Regions from separate parts of the Homo sapiens genome. Here region 1 is linked to region 2. Evidence: fine-mapped expression QTL. A gene starts in region 2. The other region holds a variant in brackets. All regions are shown on one strand. Distances are between the middles of the regions.

Region 1 (8,000 bases), 26 kb before region 2:
TAAGAAATGAAAAATGTCATTTTTTTGTAGATGATTAAAACTATGTACGTTTTTATTCAAGCAAGAAAATCACATGATTTATCATAGTCATAAGACTAACAAGCAGAGAAGGCATTAATATGCTTAACTATCTTACCTTATAGTTAAAAAATTTTGTCACATGAGCAAACAGTTCAAAGCTGAAATCCATGTCAATAGAGTCTCCTGAACTCGCTGCAGCCATGCACTTTGCTGCATACCATCCCATCTGTCTAGCCTGGGTCCACAGCCTCATCTGAAATGATGAAAAAATGTTACACAATGTCATTTTTCATGATCATTATCTGAAAAATGTTAACCTTGTAAATTCACTTAAAGGAGTTCAATGTTTGACAGTCTTTCTGTCATCTTTGCCACAGAAGCAGTCACCAATGGATAACTAATCAGACTGATTTTTGGTATTTGTTAATTCTATCTAAATTACTGCCTCTAAAATTAAAAGATGATACCAATCACACCTGTTTTAGTAGCATTTCTATTAAATATTATGAAACTATATTAAGCTATACCAGGTGAGAAAAATGTTTTAATTAACCAGTCCCTTCTTCAAAAATTTGTCATCACCATTAACAGAGATGTCAAATTATCACTGAAGAATTTGTTCTATTTTCCAGCAACCTTCATTTTTATGCACTACTTAAGGTCTGCTGTGCTGTTAACCTCAGTGGTTAGACAGACTCTTGGTGCCTCACCAAGACAACATAAATATCTCAGCAACTGATTCTGGGAAGTCATTTAAATTGTTTTGCATGACCGTATTAATTCATCTATTGTATTTTTATTTTATTTCTATGAAGTTTTGAGACTCCCTGGTATAAAAGAACACGGCCTTTGACAAAATTCAACAACCCTTCATGCTAAAAACTCTCAATAAGGTATTGATGGGACGTATCTCAAAATAATAAGATCTATGACAAACCCACAGCCAATATCATACTGAATGAACAAAAACTGGAAGCATTCCCTTTGAAAACTGGCATAAGACAGGGATGCCCTCTCTCACCACTCCTATTCAACATAGTGTTGGAAGTTCTGGCCAGGGCAATCAGGCAGGAGAAGGGAATAAAGGGCATTCAATTAGGAAAAGAGGAAGTCAAATTGTCCCTGTTTGCAGATGACATGATTGTATATCTAGAAAACCCCATCAGCTCAGCCCAAAATCTTAAGCTGATAAGCAACTTCAGCAAAGTCTCAGGATACAAAATCAATGTGCAAAAATCACAAGCATTCTTATACACCAACAACAGACAAACAGAGCCAAATCATGAGTGAATTCCCATTCACAATTGCTTCAAAGAGAATAAAATACCTAGGAATCCAACTTACAAGGGATGTGAAGGACCTCTTCAAGGAGAACTACAAACCACTGCTCAATGAAATAAAAGAGGATACAAACAAATGGAAGAACATTCCATGCTCATGGGTAGGAAGAATCAATATCGTGAAAATGGCCATACTGCCCAAGGTAATTTATAGATTCAATGCCATCCCCATCAAGCTACCAATGACTTTCTTCACAGAATTGGAAAAAACTACTTTAAAGTTCATATGGAACCAAAAAAGAGCCCGCATCGCCAAGTCAATCCTAAGCCAAAAGAACAAAGCTGGAGGCATCACGCTACCTGACTTCAAACTGTACTACAAGGCTACAGTAACCAAAACAGCATGGTACTGGTACCAAAACAGAGATATAGACCAATCGAGCAGAACAGAACCCTCAGAAATAATGCCTCATATCTACAACTATCTGATCTTTCACAAACCTGACAAAAAGAAGAAATGGGGAAGGGATTCCCTATTTAATAAATGGTGCTGGGAAAACTGGCTAGCCATATGTAGAAAGCTGAAACGGGATCCCTTCCTTACACCTTATACAAAAATTAATTCAAGATGGATTAAAGACTTACATGTTAGACCTAAAACCATAAAAACCCTAGAAGAAAACCTAGGCAATACCATTCAGGACATAGGCATGGGCAAGGACTTCATGTCTAAAACACCAAAAGCAATGGCAACAAAAGTCAAAATTAACAAATGGGATCTAATTACACTAAAGAGCTTCTGCACAGTAAAAGAAACCACCATCAGAGTGAACAGGCAACCTACAGAATGGGAGAAAATTTTTGCAACCTACTCGTCCGACAAATGGCTAATATCCAGAATCTACAATGAACTCAAACAAATTTACAAAAAAAAAACAACCCCATCAAAAAGTCGGCGAAGGATATGAACAGACACTTCTCAAAAGAAGATATTTATGCAGCCAAAAGACAAATGAAAAAATGCTCATCATCACTGGCCATCAGAGAAATGCAAATCAAAACCACAGTGAGATACCATCTCACACCAGTTAGAATGGCAATCATTAAAAAGTCAGGAAACAACATGTGCTGGAGAGGATGTGGAGAAATAGGAACACTTTTACACTGTTGGTGGGACTGTAAACTAGTTCAACCATTGTGGAAGTTGGTGTGGCGATTCCTCAGGGATCTAGAACTAGAAATACCATTTGACTCAGCCATCCCAGTACTGCGTATATACCCAAAGGATTATAAATCATGCTGCTATAAAGACACATGCACACGTATGTTTATAGCGGCACTATTCACAATAGCAAAGACTTGGAACCAACCCAAATGTCCAACAATGATAGACTGGATTAAGAAAATGTGGCACATATACACCATGGAATACTATGCAGCCATAAAAAATGATGAGTTCATGTCCTTTGTAGGGACATGGATGAAGCTGGAAACCATTATTCTCAGCAAACTATTGCAAGGACAAAAAACCAAACACCACATGTTCTCACTCATAGGTGGGAACTGAACAATGAGAACACATGGACACAGGAAGGGGAACATCACACACCGGGGACTCTTGTGGGGTGGGGGTGCAGCACACCAACATGGCACATGTATACATATGTAACAAACTTGCACGTTGTGTACATGTATCCTAAAACTTAAATATAATAATAAAAAAAAAAAACACTGACCTTGGGAGTCACAGTGGATTTTAATATCAACAGATCTACATATATATTTAACTTTTCTGGGCCTCGGTTCATTTACCTGAAACGTAAACATAACACTACCTACTCTGTAACTATTGAGAGAATTAAACAGGTTAGCGTATAATAAGCACTTGGTTTCCTTCTACCTCCCTGTATGTGCATATGTACTTAATGCTGTCTTTTGTTTGCAGAAATAATATCATAATCATAGACATGAGTTTTAAGCATTTCTAGCAGAAGTGATAGATTTTTTTTTTTCAATCTCCTCTGTAAACAAGGTATTATAGATTTGATGAAGTGAAAGGCAGTTTATGGCTGGGGGTCAGAATAAACTGAGCACAGTAACAACTAGAGAACAGCTAATACAAGTGGCCGGAAAATTTGCATCTTGAACTGCATAAATTAGTATCCTTATTGCTTGTGTAAGCCAAGAAATGGGGCCTATAAGGTGCACTCAAAACAAGGCCATCTGTTTATTTTCGGATTTTTTCCCCTCTTTCAGATTATAACACATTAAGATATAATTTACCCTAGAGAATTAAAAATGTTAAAAAAAAAAAAA[C/AC]CCATAAACTCCAACTCTAAGAATTTGTGATAGTCTTGCCACAGAAATGACATAGAATGAGGCAGGTTAGAAACAAAAAGGCTGGAACCATTCTTACTGATGTCTCTACTGTCTGTAAGAACACAAAATGATGGTGCTGCCTCTTGAAATACTTTTAGCTCTTCTCCTACTTCACACTGCATAATCTGAATGAATAATGTCCCTAACTGTGGAGCTGGTCTTTAACAAAGATAAATGTTGCCTGGTTCCTTTATTTCAAACATCTACCTAGGTCTCTACCCCTCTGCACACCTCTGGTCACTGTCTTTATCTTCCTCTAGTATTTTTGTTCCACCGTTAGGAGGAGGTAGGTAAAGCTGTGAGGGTAGGAAAAAGTCTAGATCCAGTTGGGACTTGTTAAGGCTCAGGAAAGGTGTTTACTACAGGAATTTTTTTTTTTTTTTTTGAGACAGAGTTTTGCTCTTGTTGCCCAGGCTGGGGTGCAGTGGTGCGATCTCAGCTCACTGCAACCTCCGCCTCCCAGGTTCAAGGGATTCTTGTGCCTCAGCCTCCTGAATAGCTGGGATTACAGACGCACACCATCATGCTCAGCTAATTTTTTGTATTTTTAGTAAAGACGGGGTTTCATCATGTTGTTCAGGCTGGTCTCAAACTCCTAACTTCAGATGATACACCTGCCTCTCACCCTCCCAAAGTGCTGGGATTACAGGCGTGAGCCACTGCGCCCAGAACATTTTTTAGTAATGATTACCACAGGGACAGAATAGGATCATAAAGGAATAGAATGCTTTTCTATATAATTTACAATCTTAGTAGTTTTTTTAATCTAAAGTTGTGCTGTCCAACATCGTAGCCACATATATTTAAAGTTAATGAGAAGTAAGTAAAAATAATTCAGTTCCTCAGTCACATTAACCACATTTCAAGTGCTCATGTGACATACTGCTGGCTACCTGACTAGATGGTGAGGAATTAAACATTTCCATCATCACAGAAAGTTCTCCTGGACAGTGCTGATAAGCAGGTAAGAATGAAAAACAAAGTAATAGCCCATAATTTCTTTTAAAGTAAAAGATGTCTCAGTCTACCATTATAATGATAACTTACCAAACAGGGAAATATTCTAGTTTTTTTTTTAAATATATATAACAACTGTGCTAGCTTCCTACTTAAGCAGAAAAGTTGGAAAACCAGAAGTTGGATTTGTTGGTAACAACCGCTTTATTTTCAGACAGAATCTCTGATGAAAACATATAATTATATATGCTAGCTTACCTGCTGCCAGACTGGGCTCAGCTGCCAGGATGTAGTACAGATGTCACCGGCAGCATAGATATCAGGAAGGGATGTGTGCATATGATCATCCACTTTCAGGCCACCATCTTCTCCTAGATCAAACTAAACAACATTCCTCATAAGCGTTAAGTGTTAAGAAAAATGAAACGACTTTTTCCATTTTAAAGTAAAAGAACAAATTAAATTGTTACACTTTGCATGCTCATCTTTAATGAGAAAATGAAAAATATCAGCAAAGTTTAGACACCTGAGCTGAATTTCCATGGATCAAATTCCAACTAAGACTGATCCATAAAACTGTCAGAATTTCAACATGAAAAGTATCCAATAACCATGTGACTACCTTATCCATAACTACAAGAATATTCTTTTTTTTTTTTTGTAAGCTTCAAGTGCTGAAAAGCAAAAAATACAAGATGGTTTCTCTAAAAGAATCATTTTTGAGAAGTCACGGGAGGTGTCAGTCTCTTACCAACATTTAGATAAATAAATTGTACATTATAAACCATTACTGATGACGCTTATGCAAGGATATAACTATGTAAGGATTTTAAGCAGTAAAAAATACTGTAAATCAAGACAATGTTTTAACCAAACTGTTTCCAACCATGTTAAGTTACAGTTGTACACTAAAATAATAATTATTCATGTTTGAGAATTAGAGATCTTCACAAAAATACTTCAAATATATTCACAGCTGGACAAAAAAATTTCACCTTACACTGTTACCATGGAGAAAAGGTTCTACATTTGGTGTAACTCCTGTAGCACTGACAATGAAATCGCAGCCATATATCTTTTCATTGGTCAATTCCACATAGACAGGCCACATCTCTTTAAGAAAAAAAAACCAAAAAAACAGACTTTATTTGTAAATGGAACCATCACCACAGCAGTGTATGTGACTACAATGACTAGAAACAAAGAAAGAAAAAGAAAGGCAAGAGATAACTTTGTAACACACTCCTTAGCAATTATTATGAGGCATATTTGCTAAAGCAATTTTAATGCAATTAGCATCATCTCGTTTGGGTATAATTTTAAAACCATGGCATTTTAAATGTTTTTCCTTCAAATTTGGACACATAAATTTTGACAAAGTACATTTAAATTATTTCTAAATTATTTCTCTAAAAATCTTTTGTAATACTTTACACTCCACTTAAGTGTTTAGTTCAACTAGGTGTCTTCCCTCACTACTCATATTCAAATTCCCCTTTCCTATGGAAAAATTCAAAGAATTCAGAACAGTAGAATATTTCATATGCTAGTTAACTGAGTGTATTTCTTCAAATCATGGCAATTCTCAGAGGAGTTGTGGAACTGGAGTTAGGAGAGCTGCATCTTAGTCCCAAAAATATACATTTTCAATCTGATTTGGGTGAAATCATGTCACCTTTAAGAGCTCTAGGTTTTTGTCTTATTTTGATTTATAATATATTCTGATTGTTGGTCAAAACACTCAGCTCTATGTAAGATGTAATGCCCTATACGATTTAATTTACTAGAAAACAACAGACAGTGAAATGAAGTGAGTTAATGTTATTAAATTATGGTTTTATTTTTACTTTTCATGTTTAAATTTTATATGGAAATACGAAGTTATTTTTAATAGAACACAGCAGGATTAAATTGTTTTCCTTTTAATTAAGTGGTTATATATATTTTTTCTTATTTCATTACTTGCCTGTATCAGCTGTAACTGACTTATGGTCTCTTGGAAAAGTGAAGGACTTTTTCTTCAAAATTCTAAACTCATCCTGAAGGTAGATTTTCTTTACTTCACACATAGTTTCAAGGTGAATCTTATGAGAAAACTAAAATTAAGAAAATACTGGTTAGCATAATACTTACAGAAAGAATAACCCGGGTTACTAATGATGAAGAAAAAACGTATACTTGTAGAAATGTATAGAAAACATAATTCTTATAATATAAATGAAACCACATTGGGTGCCCTAAAATAAGTCTCTCTATGCACATGAAAGGAGTGAACAAAAATTCATTCAGTAACTTAAGAGATCTGGTAGCTGCATTAGCAGATAGCATCGAGGGAATGCTTTTTAGCCTAGGCCTCATTGATAATTACAAATGCATTTTTTAAAAATTACAGTAGTTGTTGGGCACAGTGGCTCACGCCTGTAATCCCAGCACTCTGGGAGGCCGAGGCGCAGGTGGATCACCTGAGGTCAGGAGTTCAAGACTAGCCTGGCCTATATGGTGAAACCCTGTCTCTACTAAAATTAAAAAATTAGCCAGGCCTGGTGGTGTGCGCCTGTAGTCCCAGCTACTCGGGAGGCTGAGGCAGGAGACTCGCTTGAACCCGGGAGGCAGAGGTTGCAGCGAGCCAAGATCATACCACAGCACTCCAGCTTGGGTGACAGAGCGAGACTCTGTCTCAAAAAAAATAAATAAATAAAATAAATAAATAAATAAATAAATAAAAATTTAAAAAATGACAACAGTTATGGACTATAAAATTTTCTTCAGGTCAGTTCTGACTTACTGTCGTATCCCTGAACATTAATAAAGTCCCACGTAGGTAGTAAATACTCAATAAATGCTTATTGAATTAAACTGTTGAAGTTCTCAGGTTAAAAATATAATATTAGGATCTGAAGGTGCAAGAAGAAGGGACTTTGTGTAATTTCCATCACAAAAATTAGATACACCGTGCAGCCAGCTCCCCTCCTACCTACTGAAAGCCAAAAACCAATGCTCTAAAGAAATCACACAAAGTAACGAAGGACTGCATGCATGCTTCTTACAGCATTTAGATTTCACAGCCCTTTAACAACTATTAAAAAATCAAAATATCTAACAAAATGAGGAAAAGCAAATCATCTCCTTATCCAATTAGGGTATTAAGTGTGTATTTCCAATCCATCTAATAACTTTTGTAAGTTTACTGCATGCATCTGAAGTGACCTTTGAGAAAAGATTAATTTAAAATAGGACAGGAGTATTCACTGTAGTCTGGGTATAGAAAGCTCTATCCCTGATCTGAGGATATAGGAAAAAACAAACTCAGTTTCTCCTACTATAGTCTCACAACACAGAATACTTCTGTGACCAAATGTGTGTGGG
Region 2 (8,462 bases):
TGCCAACAGGGATCCCCTAAGCCACAACTTCCTTTGTGGGAGAAGAAAAGATTGGGAGGCTATTAGCAGCCATTGACATTGAAAACCCCAACAACCCTCACTACCACTGCAGACATCCAGAGTTGGATGCTGAGGATCCCTGCAATCTTCAACAACAATTAACTCAGCTGACGGAGCTGCACAGACTACAAAGTGGGCACCCTCACTGGTGCCAGAACTGCTACATCCCATCTAGCAAGCAGCCCTCCCCATAGGGGAAGGTCTTTCCACAGCAAAACTAGCCCATACTTCTGAAAACAGCAAGTGTGTCATCAAATGTGCAAACATCAACATAAGGCAGTAAGAAACATGATAAACCAAGAAGATATGCCACCAAAAGAACACAAATGTCAGAACTGCCTAAGAATTCAAAATAATTGTTTAAAGAAGCTGAAGGAACTTCAAGAAGTTACAAACAATTCAATTAAATCAGAAAAACAATAAGCAACCAAAACAAAAAATTTAAAAAGTTATTTAAAAACTAAAGCAGAAATTCTGACGATGAAAGATGCAATGAATGAAACAAAAAAAAATGCAACAGACTATGTCAACAAGAGAACTGATCACACAGAAGAAAACATCTGTGAATCTGAAGACAGATTATTTGAAAATATACAGTCAGAAGGGAAGAAGAAGAAAAAAGAATGAAAAAGAACATAGAAGTAGGGAATTAAAGGATGGCATCAAATGAGCAAATCTTTGAATTATAGGCGTTATAGAAGGAGACAAGAAAGACAAAGGAGTAGAACATGTATTTAAAGAAATAACAACAGAAAACTTTCCAGGCTGGGCGCGGTGGCTCACACCTGTAATCCCAGCAATTTGGGAGGCCGAGGTGGATGGATCACGAGGTCAGGAGTTCCAGACCAGCCTGGCCAATATGGTGAAACCCCGTCTCTACTAAAAAATACAAAAAATTAGCTGGGCATGGTTGCGGGCGCCTGTAGTCCTAGCTACTTGGGAGGCTGAGGCAGGAGAATGGCGTGAACCCAGGAGGCGGAGCTTGCAGTGAGCCAAGATCGTGCCACTGCACTCCAGTCTGGGCAACAGGGTGAGACTCCATCTCAAAAAAAAGCAATCAATTCACCATAATCAAGTGGGATTTATTCAGGGATGCAAAGATGGCTTAAAATATGCAAATCGGTAAATGTGATATACCACATTAACAGAACAAAGGACAAAAATCATGACCATCTCTACAGATATAGAAAAAATATTCAACAAAATTAAACGTCTTTTCATAATAAAAACCCAACAATTAGGTATGGAAGGAAAGTACCACAACAAAAAAATGGTCATATACAAGCCTATAGCTAATAATATATTGAATGGAGAAAAGCTGAAAGCTTTTCCAAGATCAAGAACAACACAAGGATGCCCACTCTCACAACTTCTATTCAACACAGTACTAAAGTCCTAGCTAGAGCAATTAAATTAGGTGACAGAAAGAAATAAAAGGCATCCAAATTGGAAAGATTTTAAATAGCTTGACTTAGCCATTCCACAATGTATACATGTATCAAAACATCATGTTGTACAGCATATAACTGTACTTGTCAATTTTTAAGAAAGAAAAAAATACACAATTACCCTAACTGCTATGCAAGTTATTGCAATTTTTTCAAATTAATATTAACAAGTTATACAAAGGTTCTTACCTGCTTGAAATTTGTAACTGCTTTAATAACAGGAGAAGCTGTTACCAAGAGAATATCTTCCGATGGAAAGTGAGTAGCCAACTTATTTTTAAAAAGAGAGAAAAAAAATTAGGACAAATTACTTTAAGTACTGGTATATATGGTTTGGGGTTGAGAATAATGCAATTTTAATAATGTAATTAATCTAGAAAATTAAAAACCCACTGTTCCTCATCTAAAGGTCTCCATTATCCTTGGTCTTGATGGGGCAATGGTGAATAATATTAAACTCTGATACTGAGAAAATAATATTTACAGTAAACACTAACAAAGAACTCCTGAACAAGAAAAGTGATATAAAGAAATATCCTTTATTTACTTCAACTATTTTTTATACCAATTTAGAGTTATAATGCAGAGGATGAGAATAAACTATCTTCCTAATTACCAGTTAAACCAACTTCTATTTATCTTAAAATAATATTTCATTTGTCTTCAATGGGATGAAATTAAAGCAAACCCTCAATATTAAACACTTAGAATATTGGTCTAACTTTCCCCAGGTGCTCTGGCACTCCTATTCTGCCTCTTCCAGTCAGTACATATTGTGGGACGATAAAGCCATTTTAATAATTGCTTCCACAAAATTTAGAGGTATAACTTGTTAATGTTTCATTATTTTCCTTTAGCTACAACCTCGGTCTTCTTCACTCTGTACCTGAAAGCATTTTCTTATCTCAAAGTCTGGTTCCTCGACACCACCACCCTCAATAATCTGGCTTCTATTCCTACTCCATCACTAAAACAGCATGTTTGAGGGATCTATGAATCCTTAAAATCCAAGGGATTATTTATTTTTTTTTTAATGGAGATGGGATCTTGCCATGTTGCCCAGTCTGGCTTCAAACTCCTGGACTCATGCAATCCTCCCACCTTGGCCTCCCAAAGTTCTAAGATTACAAGTGTGAGCTATCGTGCCCAACACCCATGCGATTCTTCTCAGTCTCATTTTATTTGAACTTTCTATATTTGACAATATCATTACTCTCTCCATCTTTCTTTCCTCTGTATATTCTGTAATTTATATCTCTGCTGTTTCCATTGCTAGATGAGGTCCTCAAAACTTCTTTATACTACTGAAATCACCTTCGAATTGGCTCTCCAGTTTCACGTATAAACCAGCTGCCTCTGCCACAAATACATTGTAACTAATCATCTTTCAAGCCTTTTCATATGATCAAGTTACTCCACTGCTCAAAAACATTTGACTACTTGTAAATTCTTGTTAAGTTCTCAGCATGCTAAGACTCCTTATGATCTATGCTTTAAGCTTTACTGCTCCCTGATGATCCATGCTTTTCCACTGGAGATGACATTCTTTTCTTGAATACTTGGTAAACTTTCACTCATTCTTTCATAATGAGATTTTAAAAATACCTTCTTTGATTAAAAAAATTTCCTCTTCCCTAATTCACTCCCTACATACTCCACAGGCACCTCTAAGATAACCGTTGATATCTCTTGCATAGACATACAATATTGTAATATTGTCTCTTCCAGCAGGCTGTGAGTCCCCAGCATGGTATATACCATGCTGTTCATAGTTGAACACTCAGCCCTTAATACGGTGCCTGCATCATATATGTTTACTTAGTGAATAAACGGAAAATACGCATCCAACGATGGAAACACTTGAGTTTCTTCCACTATTTCTTATGACTTCAGTGATTGCTCATGTTTACTTTATATCAACAAAATAATGTAGAACTTTTTGGAATACACACATGTATCTGAATATATATGGTCTGGCTATTCAGTATAATCAAGAAAGCAAGCCCTACATGCATTTAATCCTTCGCTGATTATTTTACAAAACTTTACTAGAAATAAAGTTTCTTCTATCTTGGGAGTTCGAAGTATAGAAAACTTACATATGGGATTCTTTATTAATTAGTTAAGATGCACTAAAGACTTGGCAACTATCTGGAAACTAAACTCAATCACCTACGATAATTAACAAAGGGGGCTGAGGGCCGGGTGCTGTGGCTCAGGCCTGTAATGCCAGCACTTCGGTAGGCGGAAGCGGGCAGACTGCTTGAGCCCAGGAGTTCGAGACCAGCCTGGCCAACATGGTGAAAGCCCGTCTCTACTAAAAATACAAACATTAGCGGGGCGTGGTGGCTGGCGCCTGTAATCCCAGCTACAGGCTGACGCAACAGAAGAATCGCTTGAACCCGGGAGGCAAAGCTTGCATTAAGCCAAGATCGCACCACTGCCCTCCAGTCTGGGCGACAGAGTGAGACTCCGTCTCAAAGAAAAAGAAAAAAAAATAAAAAGAAAGGGGGCTGAATTTTTTGTCTAAATACAAAGTCCTCATGTCTGCTCTGACATTACAAGGATCTGAGCACGGATCAGCCAGCTTTGGTTTCTCGGCTATAATTTGCCTCCCACTCCTCCCTGCGCCTAAGAGAAAGCTAGTGAGGTCATCTGAGGACCACCAAGCAGTTTCTAAAATCTGGGAGCAATAAGTGCGGAAAAGGGCGCAGCAAAAAAGGAACCCGGAAGAAGAAAAAGGGAGGGGGTGGGAGGAAGGCCTCCAGTGCTATCCCCTTTGGGGTCGGGGAAAGAGGCGGAACCGCCTGAGCACCGCCCTACCTGCTCCGCACAAGTGACGCCCGCGATGCCGCCGCCGACCACCACGAACTTCCCTGCCGTCGGGGGAGGGCGCGCTGCCTCCATGCTGCCGGACTCCCAGTGGTTTACTGAATATCGCGGCGGAGCAACGGGACTCTGGACTCCAGGAGAGGAAGCAGCCGCGAGGCGGTCACTTCCGGTGCCTTACCAGATAATCCGACCTACGGGTGCTCGGGAGCTCACACTACTCATCTCGAGTACCTGCTGCCGGCTGCGTTTCGGAAGCAACGAATTGTCTCGTGGTGTTCAGAGCTTTGCGTTACTATTACTACACCTGAATGTAGTTATTCCATGAAAATTTGACAAAGAGAAAACCAAAAAATTAAAAATAAAAAAGTAAAGAAGATGGGTTGCCCAAAGAAGTTTGATAAATTACATATCTAAAGATAGACCAGTGTTCTCACGGGACAAAACATTCATATAATAAATGAATTGGTGTGAAGTTCTCATTATTTGTTTCTGCGAGAAATTAGAGGCACAGATTTTATGCTCTTATGAGTAGAAGGAGCCTTCGGGAACATCCTGACCCCACTCCTGTCATTTTTGTAGATGAAGAAACTTGAGTCTTCTGAAAACCACTTGATTGCCACCGTTCACCTAACAATCCAAGATTTTTGTTTGTGGAAGCACAAAAATTCTTCATGACAAGGCAAAACAATACTACTGAATTGTTCTCTAAAAAATCATCCTTTTCATTTACAACTTTGACCTCAGCTAAAGTTTCCAGGAAGAATGTACAGTTGCTTTCCATTTTGTCAAAACAAATGAACATTTCTTAAATTTCCAGTCAATAGCAGCATGTGTGAGGGTTGAATGAAATATTCCCAGTCTCGGTTTTACTGTGAATTTTTTTCGTGGTCAATTGTTTTTAAGAAATTGCTAAATCATTTTTAACTGTTTTTACTATATTATTCACTATTCATATTATTTTACTATTTACTATTACCTTTGCTGTCTCATATAACTTTCCCTAGGAGTTGTTTTGTAATGGTAAGGTATTATCTCTCAAATGGTTCACTCTAAAACTGGTAATTACCCGAGTCCCTTTAATTCTTTAAACACTGAGAATAACCATTATATATTAACAGGAAAGCCTACCACGTATCTAATTACAGGCATTTACTGATACCTGTAAAAATCATTGTTCTTTGATTTACCAAGTTAAATGGTAAGCGGTTTAATAAACGTGTCTAATTCCTGTTACTAGTATAGCAACCAAACAAAGCATTCATTTCTAGGAGGAGGAAATACATTCCTTAAGCCCATTTAGATCTCATCTTGCTTCAGCTTATTTTCACATTATCTCACTCACACTGTGTTCCATTCAGGCCACACTACACTTCCAGATCCCAGGATATGCCATTTTCTTTCTGAGCATTTGCACATATCTTTTTCCCAACTACTTTTCCCTGGCTAACTCATCAACCTTTGGTTTCATCAAGCCATTGCTTCCCCTTTAAGATACTTTATCTAACATCCTCAAGACAGCTAGGTGTCCTCTCCGTGTGTTCTTATAGCACTTTGTCATCCTCTAAATTTAGACTTATCCCACTTTATTGTAAATTCTTACTGCCTGACCCCACCACCACCATAAACTGCTTACATAATCTCAGGGATTATTTTTGTCTCCCTTTGTATCTCCAATGTTTAGTAGGGAGTATGTATTCAACAAAAATGTGCTCAACGAAATAGGAAGTTGGTGGAGCATGAAACTCCCCTGAAGTCCTTCTAAAGATTTTTAGATTCATTGTCCAGGGTCAGGATCCTCTTGTATATTGTGACAGGGGTTTCCTCTTTATGGAAGTCGGAAGGAAGAATGGAGTGGAATTTAAGCTCCCAGGGGAAACGGAAGGAGATCATCGTCTGTGGGAGGGGAAGCAAAGTAGTAGGAGGCTCCTCAAATGTAAAGGGGTAATGACTCCACACTCTCCTTTTTTCTTCCCCTTGTGAAGGCTGGCTTTTTTGTCAAAGGTGATGTAGGGATAAGACCTAGCTGCCTGCCACACTGGCATGAATATCCAACTTTTAGAAATGTCTAAGGGTTAAAGAACTTTCAGTGCATCTCACCTTAATGTTGATTAAATTAGATACATATACTGGATGTAAAGTGGGTTAAAAGTAAGATGTAGGTAACTTGAAACATGTTATCCACAGGGAGGGCAGCAATAGGTACAGGTTAGGAGAAAGGGCAACTGCAAAGAAAACTGGGCACCTAGAAATAAGGGAGGCCCAATGCCAGGAAGCAGCAGAGAAGCAGAAAAGACAGAACTTCAGCTCCCCTTTAGCTCTGGTCAGCAAGCTTAGGAGTGACCTGGTGACTGTTTCTGAGGAGTCAAAGAAATACCAGTGTATTGCTAAATATTATGGTGTATGTTTATGGGTGGAAAAGAAAAGCAGGACTTGGCAAAGAAAGGTTCAGAGAAGAAGTGGAATTTATATTGAATCTCAAAGGCCCATAGCATTTGGATAGGTTCAGAAGAAGATGTGGCAAGTCATGTGGGAAATATCCCAAGAACCAAAGGCTTAGCAGCAGGAATGAGCATGGGAAATACAGGAGATGGTAAAAGGGAAGAAAGAAAGAAAAGTGGTTGGGGAGTTCAAGATTCATGTGGAAAAACTGAAGGAGATAAAGCTATCTTCTTCTATTTCTCTCCATAATGTTGTTACATCTGATTCCCATACCCACCTAATCTCTTGAAGGCCATCCCCAACTTTCAAACTACCATCAAAATCTAGTCTTCCATTCTTCTTCAAGTTGATATCAGAAATGCCTAGAATAGGAGTATTGAGGTTAATTTTCAACTGCAAAAATTGGGAATGAATAATGACATTTCATAGTTGGTGATTAATAGCTTTTGAGTCAGATGACCTAGGTTCAAATGTGGCACCAGCATTTCTTTGTTGTGTGACCATTCAGTGAGTTATTTACCTCATCTGAACCCTAGTTTCCTCATTGGCAAGACGGGTATAAGATCTACTTTGTAGAGTTGTTTTGATGCATGTGTGAGGCAACATATTTAAACTTCCTAGCATAGTGCGTGCCTCTTAGTAGGATTAATGGTTAAGTTGCCTGCCTGTGCCCTGTTGAATAGACTATGTTTCTCTGTCTAAAGGATTTTATCTATGATCATAACCTTAACAAGCCTATTATGCTTTTAACTCCCAAATGTCTATCTCTCATGCAATCTACTCTGAATCTTCAAGCCTGAAATTTCTGAAACATCTTGGATATCTTCTCATTTTTATCTTGGTTTTTGCCAATTCGCTGTAAGTACAGCCTGGATTCATCTTGCACTCGAAACCTCTTCTTTGTTTTGTTAGTTCATATAACTGATTTACTGAACAAGCTGGACTTTATAGGGAAGAAATTAAAGCAAACATTTTTATTTCTCAACGCTTTTCCTGTGAATGTATTTTTCTCCTCTAAATTCTTATTAATTTAGCTTATCTGATCATTCTCAGGTAATAAAAAGTCTGGTACTACCTATTATCAAAACTCCAGACACGCATCCAATTAAAGCCTCACCTAACTACAGGCAACGCAAATTGATTTCTTGTTGCTTTTTTGCTCCAGCTCTTCTCCTAACTAAGAGCTGATGTTTTCAGGGGCTTTAAGATTGGAGGGTGGGTAAGGAGTAAGGAGAGGAAAGAGCCTCACTGTTGTTCCTGTATGAGCATATATATGCAAACCTACCCCCAAAGGCTGAGAGAGCTGAGAGGCCAAAGAAAAACTGACAAATCCAGTTTCTCAGAAAGAGGTATTTAATAGGGACTTACACACAGAAATGATGATTCTGTTACAGTGCATCCCCACACCTGCCCTCCAGAAATTATGTAAGCTTTTAGGATAAAAGATGTACAGCTGATCATGTCTCAGACTTTCTTGCAAAACTCATGAACACTGGGGAGTCTAGATAAGAATCTTAATGAGAGAATTATCTAAGTTACAAGCTTTGTTTCTTTTGAAGGGTTATCTATGCTATGGGCATTGTTTAAGGACCTTGCTGCAGAACACCTTAGTATGCAGGAATCCAACATCAGTCATCATGGCCGTGGTGTCATTCTTGCCATACCGCAGGCTGTCTTCCTATA

Evidence for each region. PIP is the estimated chance that this variant, and not a neighbour inherited with it, causes the effect.
Region 1: its variant is fine-mapped to the expression of PYROXD1 in whole blood (INTERVAL, PIP above 0.99).

Annotation. Positions count from the first base shown.
Region 1 is chr12:21,459,755-21,467,754 of GRCh38, reverse strand. It overlaps PYROXD1 (pyridine nucleotide-disulphide oxidoreductase domain 1), which reads right to left. Exons shown (of 12, transcript NM_024854.5): 8 at 6,601-6,730; 9 at 5,635-5,747; 10 at 4,893-5,015; 11 at 137-274. Among named protein-coding and RNA genes, the nearest start is that of PYROXD1, 26 kb to the right of the region's middle. The variant C/AC (reference allele first, on the strand shown) is at 3,618.
Region 2 is chr12:21,433,684-21,442,145 of GRCh38, reverse strand. PYROXD1 (pyridine nucleotide-disulphide oxidoreductase domain 1) reads right to left here and starts at 4,491. Exons shown (of 12, transcript NM_024854.5): 1 at 4,332-4,491; 2 at 1,698-1,778. The coding sequence starts at 4,415. RefSeq lists enhancers at 4,343-4,532, 4,583-4,662.